Linked DNA regions of Homo sapiens. The protein of the gene in region 2 binds, or shares a complex with, the protein of the main gene of each other region. Links are inferred from orthologs where the notes say so. Each region holds a gene or a part of one and is shown on either strand. Other genes may lie near its edges. The genes, in order: PTPN11 and PDGFRB.

Evidence for each region.
Region 1: the proteins of PDGFRB (region 2) and PTPN11 are in contact, whole or in part, in a crystal structure (PDB 1AYA), measured with the Mus musculus proteins. The link is inferred for Homo sapiens from one-to-one orthologs. Residues at the interface, in NP_032835.2 of Mus musculus: Ser1005, Val1006, Leu1007, Tyr1008, Thr1009, Ala1010, Val1011, Gln1012, Pro1013; in NP_001103462.1 of Mus musculus: Gly13, Val14, Glu17, Arg32, Pro33, Ser34, Lys35, Ser36, Thr42, Thr52, His53, Ile54, Lys55, Leu65, Gly68, Gln87, Leu88, Lys89, Glu90, Lys91, Gly93, Ile96.

Annotation. Positions count from the first base shown.
Region 1 is NC_000012.12:112,448,869-112,457,939, reverse strand, and holds part of PTPN11 (tyrosine-protein phosphatase non-receptor type 11), read right to left. Parts: intron 7,623-9,071; coding exon 7,428-7,622; intron 4,746-7,427; coding exon 4,553-4,745; intron 3,377-4,552; coding exon 3,260-3,376; intron 1,991-3,259; coding exon 1,877-1,990; intron 191-1,876; exon of another isoform or gene 36-190; intron 1-35. UniProt on the Homo sapiens protein: Acts downstream of various receptor and cytoplasmic protein tyrosine kinases to participate in the signal transduction from the cell surface to the nucleus. Positively regulates MAPK signal transduction pathway. Dephosphorylates GAB1, ARHGAP35 and EGFR.
Region 2 is NC_000005.10:150,151,418-150,160,591, forward strand, and holds the start of PDGFRB (platelet-derived growth factor receptor beta isoform 1 precursor), read right to left. Parts: upstream 4,429-9,174; 5' UTR 3,980-4,428; intron 2,541-3,979; exon of another isoform or gene 922-2,540; intron 1-921. UniProt on the Homo sapiens protein: Tyrosine-protein kinase that acts as a cell-surface receptor for homodimeric PDGFB and PDGFD and for heterodimers formed by PDGFA and PDGFB, and plays an essential role in the regulation of embryonic development, cell proliferation, survival, differentiation, chemotaxis and migration.

The DNA.
Region 1 (9,071 bases), on a different chromosome or scaffold from region 2:
CAACAAACATTTATGGAGTTTCTTCTGTGTACTAGGCACCGTGCTACATGCTGGGGACAACTGCAAAGGTAAATATGCCAGAATCCTTGTTTTTGAAGTTTTCTGTCAAATGGATGAGGAGAAAATGAAAGAGATCACATTGTCAATGGGTAAGTGATATAGAAGAGTGCAATGGGAACACAGCACATTCCCATCAGGGACATTCTCCAACCCAAGTTAGTTTCAGGAAAGAGATCAGTTCACTTAAAGTCAGGAAACAACAGATGCTGGAGAAGATGTGGAGAAATAGGAATGCTTTTACACTGTTGGTGGGAGTGTAAATTAGTTGAACCATTGTGGAAGACAGTGTGGTGACTCCTCAAGGATCTAGAACCAGAAATACCATTTGACCCAGCAATCCCATTACTGGGTATATACCCAAAGGATTATAAAACATTCTACTATAAAGACATATGCACACATATGTTTATTGCAGCACTATTTACAATAGCAAAGACTTGGAACCAACCCAAATGCCCATCAATGATAGACCGGATAAAGAAAATGTGGCACATACACACCATGGAATACTATGCAGCCATAAAAAAAGAATGAGTTCATGTCCTTTGCAGGGTCATGGATGAAGCTGGAAACCATCATTCTCAGCAAACTAACACAGGAACAGAAAACCAAACAATGAGAACACATGGACACAGGGAGGGGAACATCACACACACTGTCTGGGGATGGGGGCAAACTCCTGGATTCAAGTGGTCCACCTGCCTCACCCTCTCAAAGTGCTGAGATTACAGGAGTGAGCCACCACGCCCAGCCTATCATCACTTTTTCACTGATGCATTAAAGGGGAGGGAGAGCATTAGGACAAACACCTAATGCATGCAGGACTTAAAACCTAAATGATGGGTTAATGTGTGCAGCAAACCATGATGGCACATGTATACCTATGTACAAACCTGCACGTTCTGCACATATATCCCAGAACTTAAAGTATAATCAACAAAAATAATTTAAAAAAAAAAGAAATCAGTTCACTTAACTTACCAGAGTTATCAATTTGAACTCTGAAATTAAAGCCACCACATTTGGCACGTCAAAGCTGGAGGATCACTTGAGCCCAAGAGTTCAAGACCAGCCTGGGCAACACTGCAAAACCCCATCTCTACAAAAAAATACAAAAATTAGATGGGCATGGTATCGTGTGCCTGTAGTCCCAGCTACTCGGGAAGCTTAAGTAGGAGGATCACTTGAGCCCAAGAGTTCAAGACCAGCCTGGGCAACACTGCAAAACCTCATCTCTACCAAAAATACAAAAATTAGCCAGGCATAGGGGCATGTGCCTGTAGTCCCAGCTACTCAGTAGGCTGAGATGGGAAGATCACTTGAGCCCAGGGAGGACGGGGCTGCAGTAAACCGAGATCACGCCACTACACTCCAGCTTCGGCGACAGAGCGAGACCCTGTCTCAAAAAAAAAAAAAAAAAAGCCACCACAAGGTGTTTCTCTTTTACTCATACTCATTTGCTGCACTAAGGCTATAGATTGTTTCTAAAGACCCCAGTGCATGCTGGAAATCTTTCGAAGAAATTAGATCCTTTTGTTTCTCTGAGATTTTGCCACCAGTCCAAACCAAAAGAGCCAAATGGAGCGGCTAGCACATCCATTGACTACTCACTGCCAACTCCCTTCCCTCAGAACACAATGCTCTTCTGTTTCGAAGAAGCCCTCTCAGCAACTTGCTCCGTGTCAATCAATGGCCGAATTAAAAAAGGACGTCAGTTTCAAGTCTCTCAGGTCCAATTCCAAACACAAGAGCAACTTCTCCTCCACTAAAAATAGGATATAACAACTCACGTAAAAACAGTTTTTTAATAACTTACCTCAAATTCTTCCCAAAAGCCTTGTTTGACTTTATCTGTGGTCTCAGCTAATTTGCTTAGTTCTCGAACTCTGCTTTCTATTTCAGCAGCATTTATACGAGTCGTGTTAAGGGGCTGATCGAGTACAGCAGTTGATGTAAAATAAAGAAAATATTACAGAAAACGGTGTTAATGCAAAAAAAAAAAAAAAAACATGTCTATGTTGATATTCATAAAGGCACGGACAGAGGGTTCATAGGACCCTGTAATTCACAATAAAAGTTTTCAAATCGTTTCACCGTGTTTTCTGTTCAGCCAGAAAATGTATCTTTCTTCAGTCTTCACATACACTTTACTCTGCTGATATAAATTCAAGCCTATTTTTCTTTATGAATAGACCACATTATTTAGAGAGATTATATCATTTTCCACTATCATAAAGGTGAAATTTGAAATAGCAACAATGCCAAAGTGAATAAGTGAGGTTACCTAAAGGTAACCAGAAGTGGATCTATAATGAAAACTTGCTTTAAAACTCTGTACAGCCTTAGGCCAGATGCAGTGGCTCATGCCTATAATCCCAGCACTTTGAGAGGCTGAGGCAGGCAGATCACTTGAGGTCAGGAGTTCAAGACCAGCCTGGCTAACATGGTGAAACCCCATCTCTACTAAAAATACAAAAATTAGCTGGGTGTAGTGGCACCACCTATAATCCCAGCTACTCAGGAGGCTGAGGCAGGAGAAGCTCTTGAACCCGGGACGCAGAGGTTGCAGTGAGCCAAGAACACGCCACTGCACTCCAGCCTGGGCGACAGAGCAAAACTCCATCTCAAAAAAAAAAAAAAAAAAAAAGAACCTCTGTAATGCCTTTTACAGATAAATATGGGAATAATATAAATCTGGAATATGTTTCCAAGTACTATAGCGGCAGTCAGTGAGTGGAATCATAATAAGAAAAGATTTAGGGCCGGGCGTGGTAGCTCACGCCTGTAATCCCAAAACTTCGGGAGGCCAAGGCGGGCAGAAAACCTGAGGTCGGGAATTCAAGACCAGCCAGGCCAACATGGTGAAACCCCATCTCTATTAAAAACACAAAAACTAGCCGGGCATGGTGGTGGGCACCTGTAGTCCCAGCTACTCAGGAGGCTGAGGCAGGAGAATCGCTTGAACCCAGGAAGCAGAGGTTGTAGTGAGCCAAGATTGCAACACTGTACTCCAGACTGGGTGACAGAGTAAGACTGTCTCAAAAAAAAAAAAAAAAAAAAAGATTTGATAGTTGAAGCTGCAATGGGTACATGGAGGCTGATGATACTATTCTGTCTACCTCTGTATGTTTGCAAAATTCTCTATTAGGATTTGTTTTAAGTTTTTAAGGAGAAAGCTTGAGCTTTCCAATCTGCTCACCTGCTTGAGTTGTAGTACTGTACCCAATGTTTCCACCATAGGATTCTTCTTATAATGTTCCACAAGATCTGTCAAAGAATCAAACCGTTCTCCTCCACCAACGTCGTATTTCAGTTCCTTTCAAGATAAACACATGACATTTATTATTTGTTACCTTTATGTTACATTAGTGTTTTCAAGCACTCTCATGTTCACTGCAGCATTATTCACAATAGCTAGTATATAGAGACAACTTAAATGTCCATCAAAAGACAGATAATAGGCTGGGTGCAGTGGCTCACGCCAGTAATTCCAGCACTTTGGGAGGCCAAGGCGGGCAGATCATTTGAGGTCAGGAGTTCGAGACCAGCCTGGCCAACATGGTAAAACCCCATATCCACTAAAAATACAAAAATTAGCCAGGCTTGGTGGTGGACACCTGTAATCCCTGCTACTCAGGAGGGTGAGGCACGAGAATCACTTGAGCCCAAGAGGCAGAGGTTGCAGTGAGCCAACTGTGCTTCAGCCTGGGAGACAGAGGGAGACTCTGTCTCAAAAAAAAGATAAATAATAAAAATGTGGTGTGTGTATACAAATATACTAAAAGTGTAAATATACTCAATATACTCAAGTATGATAAGTATAATAATATATTAAATATGCTAATATACTAATACAGTAACTATACTAATATATTAAGTATAATAAAAGCATAGACGAACTTGACTAAGTAAGCAAAGAAAATCTGACTTTGGATCAGGCACAGTAGTTCACATCTGTAATCCTAACACTTTGAGAGGTTGAAGGAGGCAGGCCTCTTGAGCACTAGTTCAAGACCACACTGGGCAATGCGGCAAAACACCATCTCCACAAAAAATACAAACACTAGCTGGGCATGGTGGCACACACCTGTAGTCCCAGCTACTCAAGAGGCTGAGGGAAGATCAACTGAGCCCAGGGAGGTTGCACTCCAGCCTGCGTGACAGAGCAAGACCCAGTCTCAAATGAATAAACAAATGAATATTAAAAAAACAAAAACAAAAAAAAAAAAAAAACAGAAAATCTGACTTTGAATGTAATGGTGTTTGTCCTCTTCCAGCAGAAAAATCACCCAAAGATTTGGGTCACCAGACCCAACGTGGTGAAACCCCATCTGTAGGTGATAGAGCAAGACCCTGTCTCAAATAAATAAATAAATAAATAAATAAATAAAAGACAATCTGACTTTGAATGTAATGGTGTCTGTCTTCTGTCAGCAGAAAAATCACCCAAAGGTAACATCTTGCCAGACCCATTTTTCAACTGGAGATTTACCTGACAGCGAATCATAACATGGGTCACTTTAGACTTGCCGTCATTGCTCTCCCCTTTGTCATCACCAGTGCGCACAGAAAGAACAAAATCTCCAGGGTGGCTCTGGCTCTCTCGTACAAGAAAACTACCATGTTTTCCTTTTTCAGTTAATAATTTCTCTGCTTCTTTCCCAGAGAGATGTCCATGAAACCACCTAAAGTTTTTAAAAAATAAAAAAGAATTTAGCTCTACTATGGGTTCATGTTGTTCTTTCACAAAACTACTGTATACAGTCAGCTCTCCTAAACACAATTAAAAAGTAGACACATTCCTCCAAGGGATTGATCAATCCCACCTGAGACAGAAAATCTGCATCCCATGCAGGCAGGAAAAACCACAAAGATGGTAAGAATGACCACTAAACTTCTTAAATGAGTCCACAGTCCTTTAGAGACAAATGCCCCAATCTTTCCTGTTTTTTTTTAAATCCCTCCTCTTTTAAAAATGCAATTTGCCATTCGTCCATTGCCCAATCTTAAAAGGACCAACTGTTTAATTATAGCCATTTAAAGAAGTTACAGGCCATGCATAGTGGCTTATGCCTGTAATCCCAACACTTTGGAAGGCCAAGGCAGGAAGATCACTTGAGGCCAGGAGTTCAAGACCAGTCTGGGCAACACAGTGAAATCCCCATCTTCACAAAACAATTAAAAATTAGCCTGGCATGGTGGCAACTGCCTGTAATCCCAGCTATACACAAGGCCGAGGCAGGAGGATCACTTGAGTCCAGGAGGTCGAGGCTGCAGTGCGCTATGATCATGCCACCGCACTCCAGCTTGGGTGACAGAGCAAGACCCTGTCTCAAGAAAAAAAAATAAAAGTCGGCCGGACGTGGTGGCTCATGCCTGTAATCCCAACACTTTGGGAGGCCGAGGCAGGTGGATCACCTGAGGTCAAGAATTCGAGACCAGCCTGACCAACATGGTGAAACCCTGTCTCTGCTAAAAATACAAAATTGGCCGGGTGTGGTGGCAAGTGCCTGTAATCCCAGCTACTCAGGAGGCTGAGGCAGGAGAATCACTTGAACCTGGGAGGCGGAGGTTGCAGTGAGCTGAGATCGCACCATTGCACTCCAGCCTGGGTGACGAGCGAAACTCCATCTCAAAAAAAATAAATAAATAATTTGTAAAAATAAAGTCAAAATAAAGAAGTTGTAATAAAAAGTTGTAATAGAGACAGGCACGGTGGCTCACGCCTATAATCCCAGCACTTTGAGAGGTCAAGGTGGGCGGATCACCTGAGTTCAGGAGTTTGAGACCAGCCTGGCAAACATGACAAAACCCTGTCTCTACTAAAAATACAAAAATTAACTGGGCATGGTGGCACATGCCTGTAGTCCCAGCTACTCGGGAGGCTGAGGCAAGAGAATTACTTGAATCTGGGAGGCGGAGGTTGTAGTGAGCCGAGATCGCGTCACTTGACTCCAGCCTGGGTGACAGAGTGAGACTCCATCTCAAATAAATAAATTAAAAAAAAGAAAGAAAAAGTTGTAACAGAGACAGAAAATCATTTTGAATGTTTGTCCTTGCCTTGGCATGTGAACACTCAATTAAAAAGGATCTTCATTATAAATTAATTCAAACATTCCAACCTTTTCCATATATACAACCTATACTTCAACAGCCTCCAGTGTCTTTGGACTATATCCTGGGTGATCATCTCAAACTGTATAATGCACATAAGACTTGGAGTAAAAATGAGGGATTTTGCTAAAAATATGAATTCCCAGGCTCCACAACCAGCAATATCAATACATGTAAGTCTGAATGAGGCCCAGGAATCTGCATTTTAACCAGCACATCAGACAGTCCTGATGTAGGCATCCAAAGCCATCCAAGGACAGACTTTGAGACAATACTGCTCCATGTTTTTTGGGAAGCATCTTAACATAGTTCTAATAATAAAGTGGCTTTTTCCCTCAGGATCTTGGTCAGAAAGCAAGTACTATCATGGCAGGTGGTGTTAAGGGCTCATCATCAAAAGAATAAACTTTGAGTTATTCTTCATCCATACTCAACTGAAAACAGTAAAATTTAGAAATAAACTGTACAGAGTTGGCTGACAGCCTTTTGCCTGAAGCTACGGTGGTAGCTAGAGAAACAAATTATCAGCACATAATAGCACTGACATAAAGGTATAAGCTGAAAAAATCATACCTGAAGACACAAAATATACAAACTAACTAAGAGATCCTGAATTTGCACCAAGTCAGAGAGGAGATTGGGAATGTACAAAACGAATACAATCAATAAATAAGTCAAGCCCATGCTTTCATCAGCCTAGTTCCAACACAGGGGGAAAGATCTCGAAAATAACATAATTTTCTCTAAGCAAGGTCATTCTCACATAATTGTGGTGATAACATTAAAAGAACTGATGAAAAAGCTGACCCTCTGAGCTCTCTGCTTTTCCACTTCTGAGCTTAAACTGACATCTGTTGGTGACATTGCTGAATAACTGGTCGAGAGCCACCATAGAAAACTGCTGCTATTTTGGTGTCTCCATTATCATTTGTTTTCCTCTAATAACTCTCAAAGATTATCTGCTGAAGTTCAATAAGTCTTAAAACTAATACACGTACCAAGTATATGCAGGAATGGTATGCAACCCCTATAGGATGAGTGTAAGTAACACTGATTAAAACTTTTGCAGGAAAAAGGTACTCTGAAAATAATTTGATGCTATTAGTCTCACTTTAGTAATTCTTTAAAGATTACAGCTCAAAAAACAGTCACAAGCCTTTGGAGTCAGAGAGTCATACACAGACCGTCATGCATTTCTGACACTCAGGGCACAAGGGAGCAGCAGACTTTGTGGTCACTAAAATGTTACTGACCTTTCAGAGGTAGGATCTGCACAGTTCAGAGGATATTTAAGCTCAATGACATCTCCATTCTTCTCTTTTAATTGCCCGTGATGTTCCATGTAATACTGGACCAACTCAGCCAAAGTGGCAAATTTCTCCCCTCCATACAGGTCATAGTAATCACCAGTGTTCTGAATCTTGATGTGGGTGACAGCTCCATTTCTTCTAAAATAGTCCATTGGAAAGGGAGGCAAGGGGACAAATAAAGAGTTACACCAGTAAAATCAGATCTCATCTTCCACGTCGGATTTTACCTAAGTGTTGAAAGAAACCCAAGGAACGAATTTACCTATTCCCTATAAGAAATACGATGGGTGAAATAACCACATGTCAACCAACTCAACACAAAGGTCTTTATTAGTATCTTTACCTTGCATATCTTTTTTTTTTTTTTTTGAGATGGAGTTTCGCTCTTATTGCCCAGGCTGGAGTGCAATGACGTGATCTCGGTTCACCGCAACCTTCGCGGTGGATTTACATACATTATAAATCCAGGTTCAAGTGATTCTCCTACCTCAGCCTCCCAAGAAGCTGGGATTACAGGAATGCGCCACCACGCTCAGCTACTTTTGTATTTTTAGTAGAGATGAGGTTTCTCCATGTTGGTCAGGCTGGTCTGAAACTCCTAACCACAGGTGATCCACCCACCTCGGCCTCCCAAAGTGCTGAGATTACAGGCGTGAGCCACCACGCCCGGCCTACCTTGTATATCTTCTATTTTGAATGACTGGCCTATCGAATTGCATATATTAAGTGACAATAACTGTATAGCTACCAAAACACTTGTACAAAAATATTCATTGCCACTTTATTCATAATAGAAAAACATTTTGTTTTTTAATCATAAAAATGTATAAACAAATAGTGCTACATTACTATTCATACAATGGAATACTATGCATTATAAAAATTGTTGTGTTACTACTCATACAATGGAATACTATGCAGCAATTTTTTTGTTTGTTTGTTTGTTTTTGAGACAGAGTCTCACTCCATCACCCAGGCTGGAGTGCAGTGGTGCAATCTTGGCTCACTGCAAGCTCCACGTCCCGGGTTCACACCATTCTCCTGCCTCAACCTCCCAAGTAGCTGGGACTACAGGCGCCCGCCACGACGCCCAGCTAAATTTTTTTGTATTTTTAGTAGAGACGGGGTTTCACCATGTTAGCCAGGATGGTATTGGTCTCCTGACCTCATGATCCGCCGCCTGCCTTGGCCTCCCAAAGTGCTGGGATTACAGGCGTGAGCCACTGTGCCCGGCCACTATGCAGCAATTAAGAAAAAAAAAAAAGTGATGGCCAGGCATGGTGGCTCACGTCTGTAATCCCAGCACTTTGGGAGGCTGAGGTGGGAGGATCACCTGAGGTCAGCAGACCGATACCAGCCTGGCCAACATGGTGAAACCCCGTCCCTACTAAAAATACAAAAATTAGCTGGGCGTGGTGGCAGGCACCTGTAATCTCACCTACTGGGGAGGCTGAGGCAGGAGAATCGCTTGAACCCGGGAGGCGGAAGTTGCAGTCGGCCGAGATCTCACCACTGCACTCCAGCCTGGGCAACAAGAGTGAAACTCCCACTCAAAAAAAATAAAAATAAAAATAAAAAGACACATGT
Region 2 (9,174 bases):
TGGATCCCCAGGGGCATCCCAGGCCCCATCCAGCCTCTCATCAAGGGGATCTGGAGTCAGAAACACCCAGGTGCAAATCCCAGCTCCGCCACTTCCGAGCTGTGGGACTTTAGGCAACTGACTCTGCGCACTTTCTCACCTGTAAAATGGGGAGAGTTTAGCTGGGTGCGGTGGCTCACGCCTGTAATCCCAGCACTTTGGGAGTCTGAGGCAGGCGGATCACTTGAGGTCAGGTAGTTCGAGACCAGCCTGGCCAACACGGTGAAACCCCATCTGTACTAAAAATATAAAAATTAGCTGGGCATGGTGGCGCACACGCCTGTAATCCCAGCTACTTGGGAGGCTGAGGCAGGAGAATCACTTGAGCTTGGGAAGCGGAGGTTGCGGTGAGCCAAGATCATACCATTGCACTCCAGCCTGGGCAACAGAGTGAGACTCCATCTCAAAAAAAAAAAAAAAAAAAAGTGGGGAGAGTTTATATATCTAATTTTGAGGTTGCTGTGACGGTTTATTTATTTATTTATTTATTTTTTTTGAGACAGTCTTGCCCTGTCGCTTAGGCTCACTGCAATCTCCGCCTCCTGGATTCAAGCAATTCTAGTGCCTCAGCCTCCTGAGTAGCTGGGATACAGGTGCGCACCACCACGTCTGGCTAATTTTTGTATTTTTAGTAGAGACAGGGTTTCACCATGTTGGCCAGGCTGGTCTCAAACTCCAGACCTCGGGTGATCCACCCGCCTCGGCCTCCCAAAGTGCTGGGATTACATGTGTGAGCCACCGTGCCCAGCCTCGATGGTTAAATTAATCCAGTAAATATTTACTAAGAATGTCCTGAATGCCCAGCATGTTCCAAGTGCTGAGGAATACAGCAGCAACTTTGAGGTAACAGATGTAAAGCACAATTGAAGTAGACACAGAAAGTGCTAAGAACGAGTTGGTTCCTGTTATATCATCATGCTCACACTGCTTCCCAGCTGAGGTGCTACAAGCCCTGACCCTGGGAAGGGGCCCAACACCCCTTCCCTTCCCTCCTAACGCTCTGGGTCAGAAGACAGGGGGCACCAAAAAGATTCCCATTCCAAGAACCCACTGCCCACTGGGTTCTGAATCAAATGCAAGAAATGGGTGGGCATTTCAGAAGACCTTTTCATCCCTTTCTCCCTTCCCACTGCATTCAGCAGCAGCCTGTTCTGAGCCAATGCCCAGAGCACCCTCCTTTAGCCTAGAAGGCAGCTGGTCTCAGAGTCAGACTGTGGCCTGTGCCTGGAGGATGGACACGGATCTTTGGAACATACATGGTGTCCAGGTCCCTTCTGTGGGCAGAGCCTTTTGCAGGTTGCAGATTAATTTCACAGCCAAGTGTTCCAATGCAGGAGGCCAGGAGAGCAGTGGTTCTCTCAGCCAGTGGCCAGAGGTCCAGCTGTGAAGTGCAGGAACTGTGGTAAGCACCTTGCCAATGCTGTTGTCTCATGGAGCCCACACACGGTCCTGCTGCTCACAGAGAAGGAGATTGAGGCCCAGAGAGGCAAGGTGCTGCCCCGGGGTCACACAGTCAGCCAGAAACTGACTCGGGGTCAATGCATAGTCATCTGATGCCCAAGCCTGGTGCTGGTTACCCACAGCGCTCACTGCCTCCCAGCTGCGGAAGGAGCCCAGAGATGGGATGTGGGGGGTCTGAGGTTGGCCACACGGTGGATTTAAATCAAGCCAGGGCAAGCACTGGGTCTCCTGACTCTGGATCCACGGTGCTTTCCACTGCCTGCCCCACATGTGTGGGCAATTATAAGTCCCAGCTCTTCTTCCCGCAGAGGAGGGGGGCTGCTGATAACTGCTGTCTGGGAGGAGGGTGCTGACCAGATGGTCTCTTTCCTCTCTCAAGACCAAGCCAGGGCCCGGGCAGACCTTGGAGCAGTCAGACCTGAGGCTGCACTTTCTGCTGGGGAAGGTGCTGAAGCCAGGAGCAGGCTCTGCAGGAGGATGGAGATTCTTCCCTCTGACTGGGAGCTTCCCGGGGAGCACGAGGTAAGCCTTTAGAGTCAGGCAGACTTCAGCCTAAACACCACCTTAACTCACCGTATGGCCCTGGGAAAGTCACTTAGCCTCTCCAGATCTCAGCTTCCTCATCTACAAAAAGTAGGTAATAACACTGATTTCAAAAACTTGCCATGAGGACTCCAAGGTGTGTGAAGTACCAGGCTCTATGCCTGCATGAGGTAGGTGTTCAGGGACTGTATGTCCCTGAAGGCTGTGGATTCAGGGTCTCCTGCTTGGAGACAGGGGAGGACTGCATGACTTCAGAACTTGTCACTAGAGGCCTCTGTGCAATTGGGAGGTCACAGAGGGAAGCAGAGATACTCCTCCCTGCTTGCAATGGAGGAATGCTGCCTGGAGTAGCCACACGATGTCCTGGAAGGGCACCTGTGAGAAGGCTGGAGGCCTGGGTTCTAGTCTCACACTTGGGAGCAGAAGGTCTTCAGTGAGCTCCTCCTCCCTTTCACCAGGACATTTTTTCAGCCGCACTGCCTATCCAGGGCTGGGCACTGGGGGAAGAGCACAGGATGGGGAAACCTTAAACCTTTCCCCAGCAGAAAGTGCGGCCTCAGTTCTGACTGCTGGGGCCTGAACAATCTCTGATGAACAAACAGAACATAAACAGATCACCAACAGGGGAGGGCCAAGTAACATGGCTTCAGCACAAAGTGCATGGCTAGCACTTGGAAGACAGGAAGAACCTAGGAAGGCTGCCTGGAAGAGGTGGTGTATGGAATATCCCTGAAAGAAAAGTGATGAGGAAGGGCATTCCAGAAAGGGGGAAGAGGGAGGGCAAATGCCCACAAGCAGGATGGTGCGCATTCCTTCTGGGAATTCTGGGATCTGACTGGCGGGAACAAAAGGCCCAAGTTTGGAGTAATGGGGCACGGGGAGATTCCAACCTCTCCAGGCTGTGCCACTTACTAGCTGTGTGGCTACAGTTATGTGGCTGCGTGAGCCTCAAGTTCCTCATGTATAAAACGGAGGTAAAAACAGTCACTGCCTCTGGGGTTGCTGGTGAGCATTACATGAGATCAGTCTCATAAAGCACTCAGCACAGTTGCGGCGTGCAGTAAGTGTCAAGCAGTGGCAGCCTCTGTTAGGAGCTGGGACTTTCTCCAGGCACTGGGGAGCCATAGGCGGATCCTGGGCAGGGAGGTGGTGTGATTGGATTTATGCTTTAGAATGGCATGGAGAAGGGGTAGAGTCCAGAAGGAGGGAGACAACGAGGAGGCCTGAGCAGCTGCCTGGGACCAAAGGAAATGGCCCAGTGGCTGACCCCTTCTTCACAGAGGAGCCCCCAGATCTGACAGCCAGGTCCCAGCCCCCAGACCCAGCAGCATGACCGCTAGGGGGTTGCCATGGCCGCCCATCACCCTCGAACTTTCCTAGCCCTCAAACTTTTCTAGCTGCTGGGGGTTTAGAAGGATATCTTAAGAATCTAGAAAATTTGCAAATCCATTTAAATCCCCAGAGGTTGCCTGGCGGCTGACTGGCCTAAAGCCAGACTGATTCTTAGAAACAAGGCTTGGGCCAAGGAACAGCGGCTATGGTCCTGAGGTCCCCAGTCCCCTGCTTTCTGTGTACCCTGCCTACCTTCTCCCAATTCCCCTCTCCCGCTCTTCCCAGCTCTCCCCACTCCCCATTGACTGTGCTGTGCTTTGGAGGCCCCCAGTCAGCACCCAGAAACCCCTGAGGATTGTTTGATGAAGGCAGGAGCAGCAGGGATGATGAGGTGGAGGCCACTCACCCCAGAGCAGGGGAAAGGAGAAAACTGGCTCCTCCATCCCTGACATCACCCACAGTCTCCCAGCCTCCTCTCATCTTGTTTTGTTAAAAATATCTTCCCTTTTTTTTTTTTTTTTTTTTTTTACCTACTCGAAGAGATGCAGGTTAGGGCAAAGGGACAGGGCATGGGGCTGGGGTTCCCACTTTTTCCAGCACTTACCTTGCTGCTGATGGCTTCTGGTGTGGGCACAGTTCCAGGCTCTGGACAGTCACCCCCTCCAGGAAGTCCTCCTTACTGCCCTCTCCCAGTTATCAGAAAGACTGCTGGTCCCAGAGTGGGTAACAGCTGAGTAGAAGGACAGGCAGGACTGGTGCAGGCTCCTGAAGGCTCAGGAGAACAGAGGGATGGAGGAAGGGGGCTGCTGTAGGGGAGAGGAGCGGCCCAGCTTCGCCTCACTCCCCAAGCATCCTTCGGGAGGAGCAGAGCCGCCAGAGGGGCCGCCCTGGGTCTGGCTGTCTGCGTTGGGCAGGGCGAGCACAGGCTGCTGCTGGGCAGCAGGGCTGAGGGGCCGGCTCTCTCCTCCTCCTTGTTGATCTCCTCTCTGGCTCCAAGTTGCTCACAGAGCGATCCTGGGTCCCAGATAGGGCGGGCAGTCACTGCTGGCTGCTGGCAGCCTCAGGAGCTCACACCACTATGGGCTTCCATGCCCCCCCACTTCCCCCGCCACTTTGGGGGAAAGGCTGCAGGGTGGCTTCTGATTGGCCCAGCTGGGAGAAGGGGGGGCGGCGGGGCAGGGAGGGTGGACGCGTGCGTCTGTTTTCAATTTCAGTTTTTTTCCCCCTCTCTCTTTCTTTTCCCCCAAGTTTCTTGTTTTTCTTCTTTTCACTCTGCTTACTCCCTCCCATCGCCCGTTCGCTCAGGATGTGAGGGGATGCTTAGAAATTCCACAGCCCACGCCAGCCGCCAGCTGCTGAGTCACTTTTGTCAAAGAGTGGCCTCGGCCCCACTTTCCCGATGCCCATGTCGGGTGGCGGCCTCCCCTTGCCATGGCACCCAGGGAGATCATTTCTCAGTGCCTCAGTTTCCCCATCTGTAAAGGAGACTCTGATCATCTCTGTGGTTGATTCAGTCAACCTTCATTCATTGAACAAGCATACTGAGCATTTACTACATTCTAACACTGTACTGGGTGCAGGGGACAGTAGCAAGACGTGGTCCTGACCTCAGAAGCACCAGGCTAGTGAGCAAGATATTCATTGGGCAAGCAGGTGCCCGGTCGGCAGACAGGAGGCTGAGAGTGCATTTAGAAGGACCCCTAACGGAAGCCTGAGAGAATCAGAGAGCACTGCTGAGAAGAGGTGACATGGAGGAGATGGAAAGATCCTCCAAGATGATCAGCCGTTTTTCAGAAGGACAAACCAAGGCCCAGGGGTGAATTGGCACAGAGAGGGAATGTGATTTGGTCAAGGTCATCCAGCACAGATTGGATATCTCTGGATATTGACAGATACATTCCTTTTCACGTCTCAAAGCCCCTGGGGTGCAAGGAGAGGATTATTTGCCCCATTTTATAGATGGGGACACTGAGGCCCAGAGGAGCAAAATAAGCTTCCCAAGCTTACGCAGCAATGGCAGAGCTGGGGCAGAACTAGGTCTCATGAGACACATGATGGAAGAGACACAAGTCATCTGACCCCCACCCGAGACCCCTATTCCAGTGTAGATGAACCCCCTGCCCTGCTTTCTTCCTAGGTTCCCCCTGTGGCTCTTTCATTCAGTCACTCAACAAGATACTTTCTTTTTTTTTTTTTTTTTTTTTTTGAGATGGAGTCTTGCTCTGTCTCCCAGGCTGGAGTGCAATGGCGCAGTCTAGGCTCACTGCAACCTCCGCCTCCCAGGTTCAAGTGACTCTCCTGCCTCAGACTCCCAAGTAGCTGGGATTACAGGCGCACACCACCACACCTGGCTATTTTTGTATTTTTTGTAGAGACCGGGTTTCACTATGTTGGCCAGGCTGGTCTCAAACCCCTGACTTCATGATCCACCCACCTCAGCCTCCCAAAGTGCTGGGATTACAGGCTTGAGCCACCGCACCCAGCCTCAACAAGATACTTTCAAGTATCCGTTTTGTTCCATTTCCATTCTCTGGCTCTCCTTTCCTACCAGGGTCTGCCAAGACTCCTCCAGTTCCCCCAGCTGGGTCTCTTCTTCCACCCTCAGCTTCTCAGATCAGAAGACATCTCCAGTTACAGACTCCTAGCCCTCAGATGGCAAAGGGCATTATTTTAGAAGGGCATATAGAGTGGGCTTACCACCCCTGCTCCCACTACTGCACCCACAGGGCAACTGAATTCCAGAGGGTGAAGAAAGCTGTCCCAGGTGACACAGGTAGAGGCTGGCTCTGCCCTCCTTCCCTCTGCGCCGCTAAGTCTTTCCTCCTCAGCTTCCCCCAGACCCCTGTTCACAGAGCAGAGGATTTGCGTGAGCTGGGATTCCATGCCCACCACAGTCAACTATCTTGCATTTCTTGGTCTAGTCCCAATCGGGATTGCCCAGCAGAGCATCTGGGCTGGACCACATAGAAGGAGAAGTGTTCTCAGACTGGTTCCCAGCCACGGGTTGGGGACCATAAGAGTACCCCGAGAGAGGGGGCCTGGCCAGGTCTTTGTGGCAACAGGGAAATAGGGGAATGTGAAAAGATCCCACAGGCCACAAGGTCAGGCTTGCACAGGGATTTCTTGTGCCCAAAGATTCCGTCAGAAATTTACGACTCCCCTCCTAGCATCTGCCTGGGCCATTCACCTCTGAATCCTTGGCTGACCCTCTGCAGCCAGGCCAGCCTGGGGGAGGCCACGAGACACACCAACCCCCTAGTCCCCAAAGAAGCTAGTCTGGGAGTCAGAAGACCCAGCCACAGACTTATCAGGAGAACTTGAATAAGTCCCTTGCCCTGCCTGAGCCTCGGTTTCCCTATTTGTACATAACAGTTGTGGACTCACTGTGCTACAAGGCCCTTGGGATGGTCCGTCTGCAATTTCCCTTAGAGCTGGACTCTAGCAAGGGAGAGGAGGCTGGTGGGCCCTAGGGCAGGGGTACAGCTGGGGCCAGAGATGCAGCACAAAGGGGAGGGGCAGTTGGCGGTGGCTCCCCTGGGAAGCTGGCGGCCTCCAGTTTCCGGCCAGCCCAGCCGTCCTGAGGCCCATCTGGAATTACTTAGCCCCTACTGCCATTAACCCTTGGTGGGCACCAGGACTGTCACTCCTCCTCTCAACTGAGATATGGGTGGGAGGTGCAGAGCTACAGGGAGCAACCCAGGGCACTCACCAAGGGGCAAAATTGTCATGATTGACAGAGGAGGTTGGAGAGCTAGAGATAGAGCTGGGTTCGAATCCCAGCTGCTCCAGTTTCAAGCTACATGAGCTTAGGCAAGTCACTTAAACTCCTGGCCTTGGTTTCCTCCTCTGGAAAATGGAGACAAGTCAAAGACTGATTCATAAGACTCTTCGGTTTGTACAAAGGACTTAGTACATTGCCTCGAAGTGTACTAAGTGTACACTATTACTGAAATAGTGAGTTTCCTCATTCGAGCAGCATTCCATCACTGTGTCTTCCTGGGCGGAGCCTCCCTTTTCTGGGTCTTGGATTCCCCTTGTGCACTCTGCCTTCAGCGGCAATGGACGGGGCACATGGGCAGTGCAGCACCATCACCCTGGGGTGGTCAGCATGGCCCCCAGCCCCACTGTGGACAGGACAAGCTATGAACATCCTCACACCTACACAGATACTGGGAACCCAGTCCAGCCTTGGACAATGCTGTCTTGGGGAAGCCTGGGCTGAGAGTAGGTGGGCAGAGCATGGAATGTGGGGAGCCCTGCCTGAAGTGGACTGGGATGGGGTACAGTGGGAGAGGGGGGCTCTGGGCCTTAGGGTTCCACACTGCCTTCCCCCACAGCACGGTGGCACACTCAAGAGTTAAATGTCTGGACTCTGATGTTGGCAGCTCCAACCCAGCTCCACCACTTCCCAGCCATGTGACGCTGGGAGATGATATGACCTGAGCTCTCTGAGCCTCAGTACCTTCAACTGTGAAATGGGGACACATGTGCCTACCTCACAGGGTTGTGGAGAGACCTGAATAAGCCATGCCCACAGGCATTTTGTCAAGCCTCGAGCAAAACAAGAAAGTGCCACAAAAGGTGACTGATCCAGCTGGGCGCGGTGGCTCACGTCTATAATCCCAGCACTTTGGGAGGCCAAGGTGGGTGGATCACCTGAGGTCAGGAGTTTGAGACCAGCCTGGCCAACATGGAGAAACCCAGTCTCCACTAAAAATACAAAATTAGCTGGGTGTGGTGGTGCATGCCTGTAATCCCAGCTACTCGGGAGGCTGAGGCCAGAGAATTGCTTGAACCCGGGAGGCAGACGTTGTGGTGAGCTGAGATGGCGCCATTGCACTCCAGTCTGGGCAACAAGAGTGAAACTCCATCTCAAAAAAAAAAAAAAAGGTGACTGATCCTCAGGTGTTACCAAGAGCTGCTGTCATAGAAGTCCACCATCAGGGCTGGAGGGAAGCTCACCAACATGCTCATTACACAGCCGGTATGACTGAGGCCAGTGATGGAAAGGAACTTGTGCAAGGCCTTGTGATGTGTCAGCCACAGACTGGGACTGGAACCGAGGCTTTCTGTCTAGACTCATAAGCCCATGCTCTTCCCCAGAGGAGGGAACCAGGCTGAACAGACCCCCGTGCTAAGACCCCCCTCCCCCACCCACGCTTGTCAGAGCCGGAAGTTGCTGCTCTCAGTGGGGCAGGGGGAGGGAACCGGAAAGGGAGCCTGAGTGGGAGAATTCCCAGGAGGCCGCTCAGCCCTCACTCAGGCAGGGCAGCGGCCACCACATCTGGCTCTCCCACGCTCCTGGCTCTGCCCCCACTCCCAGGCTCCCCAGGCAGAGTTGTGGGGTGGGGGTGGGGGGTGATGAGGAAGCAGCACACATACCCCAGGCGCTCACACAGTCATCTTAGACGTCAGGACCCTAAGATATGTCCCTTCTGCTGGCATGGACACTGAGGCCCAGAGAGTGGAGGGGACTTGTCTGAGGTTCACGGTGGGGCTGAGGGAAGCTAGAATACAGGACTCCTGATCCCCAGCTCAGTGTCCTTCCACCCATGCATGCCCTGAGCAGAGCACGTAGATCCTTGTGCCTGTGGCTGGGGAGCCAGAGAGGCACAGAGTGGGAACTGTCCCCCTACCTCCTGGACACTCAGTGTAGTGGCTTTCTGAGTGGGCAAAAGACCAGCAGGGGCCTTGGGCCACATTCCCTCCCTAGATTCTTAGGACTGTCTTACTGAGCCAGACTGTAGCCACCGAGGTCTGCCAGGGTCCCAGGAGATAAAGGCTTCAAGACACTGCCCA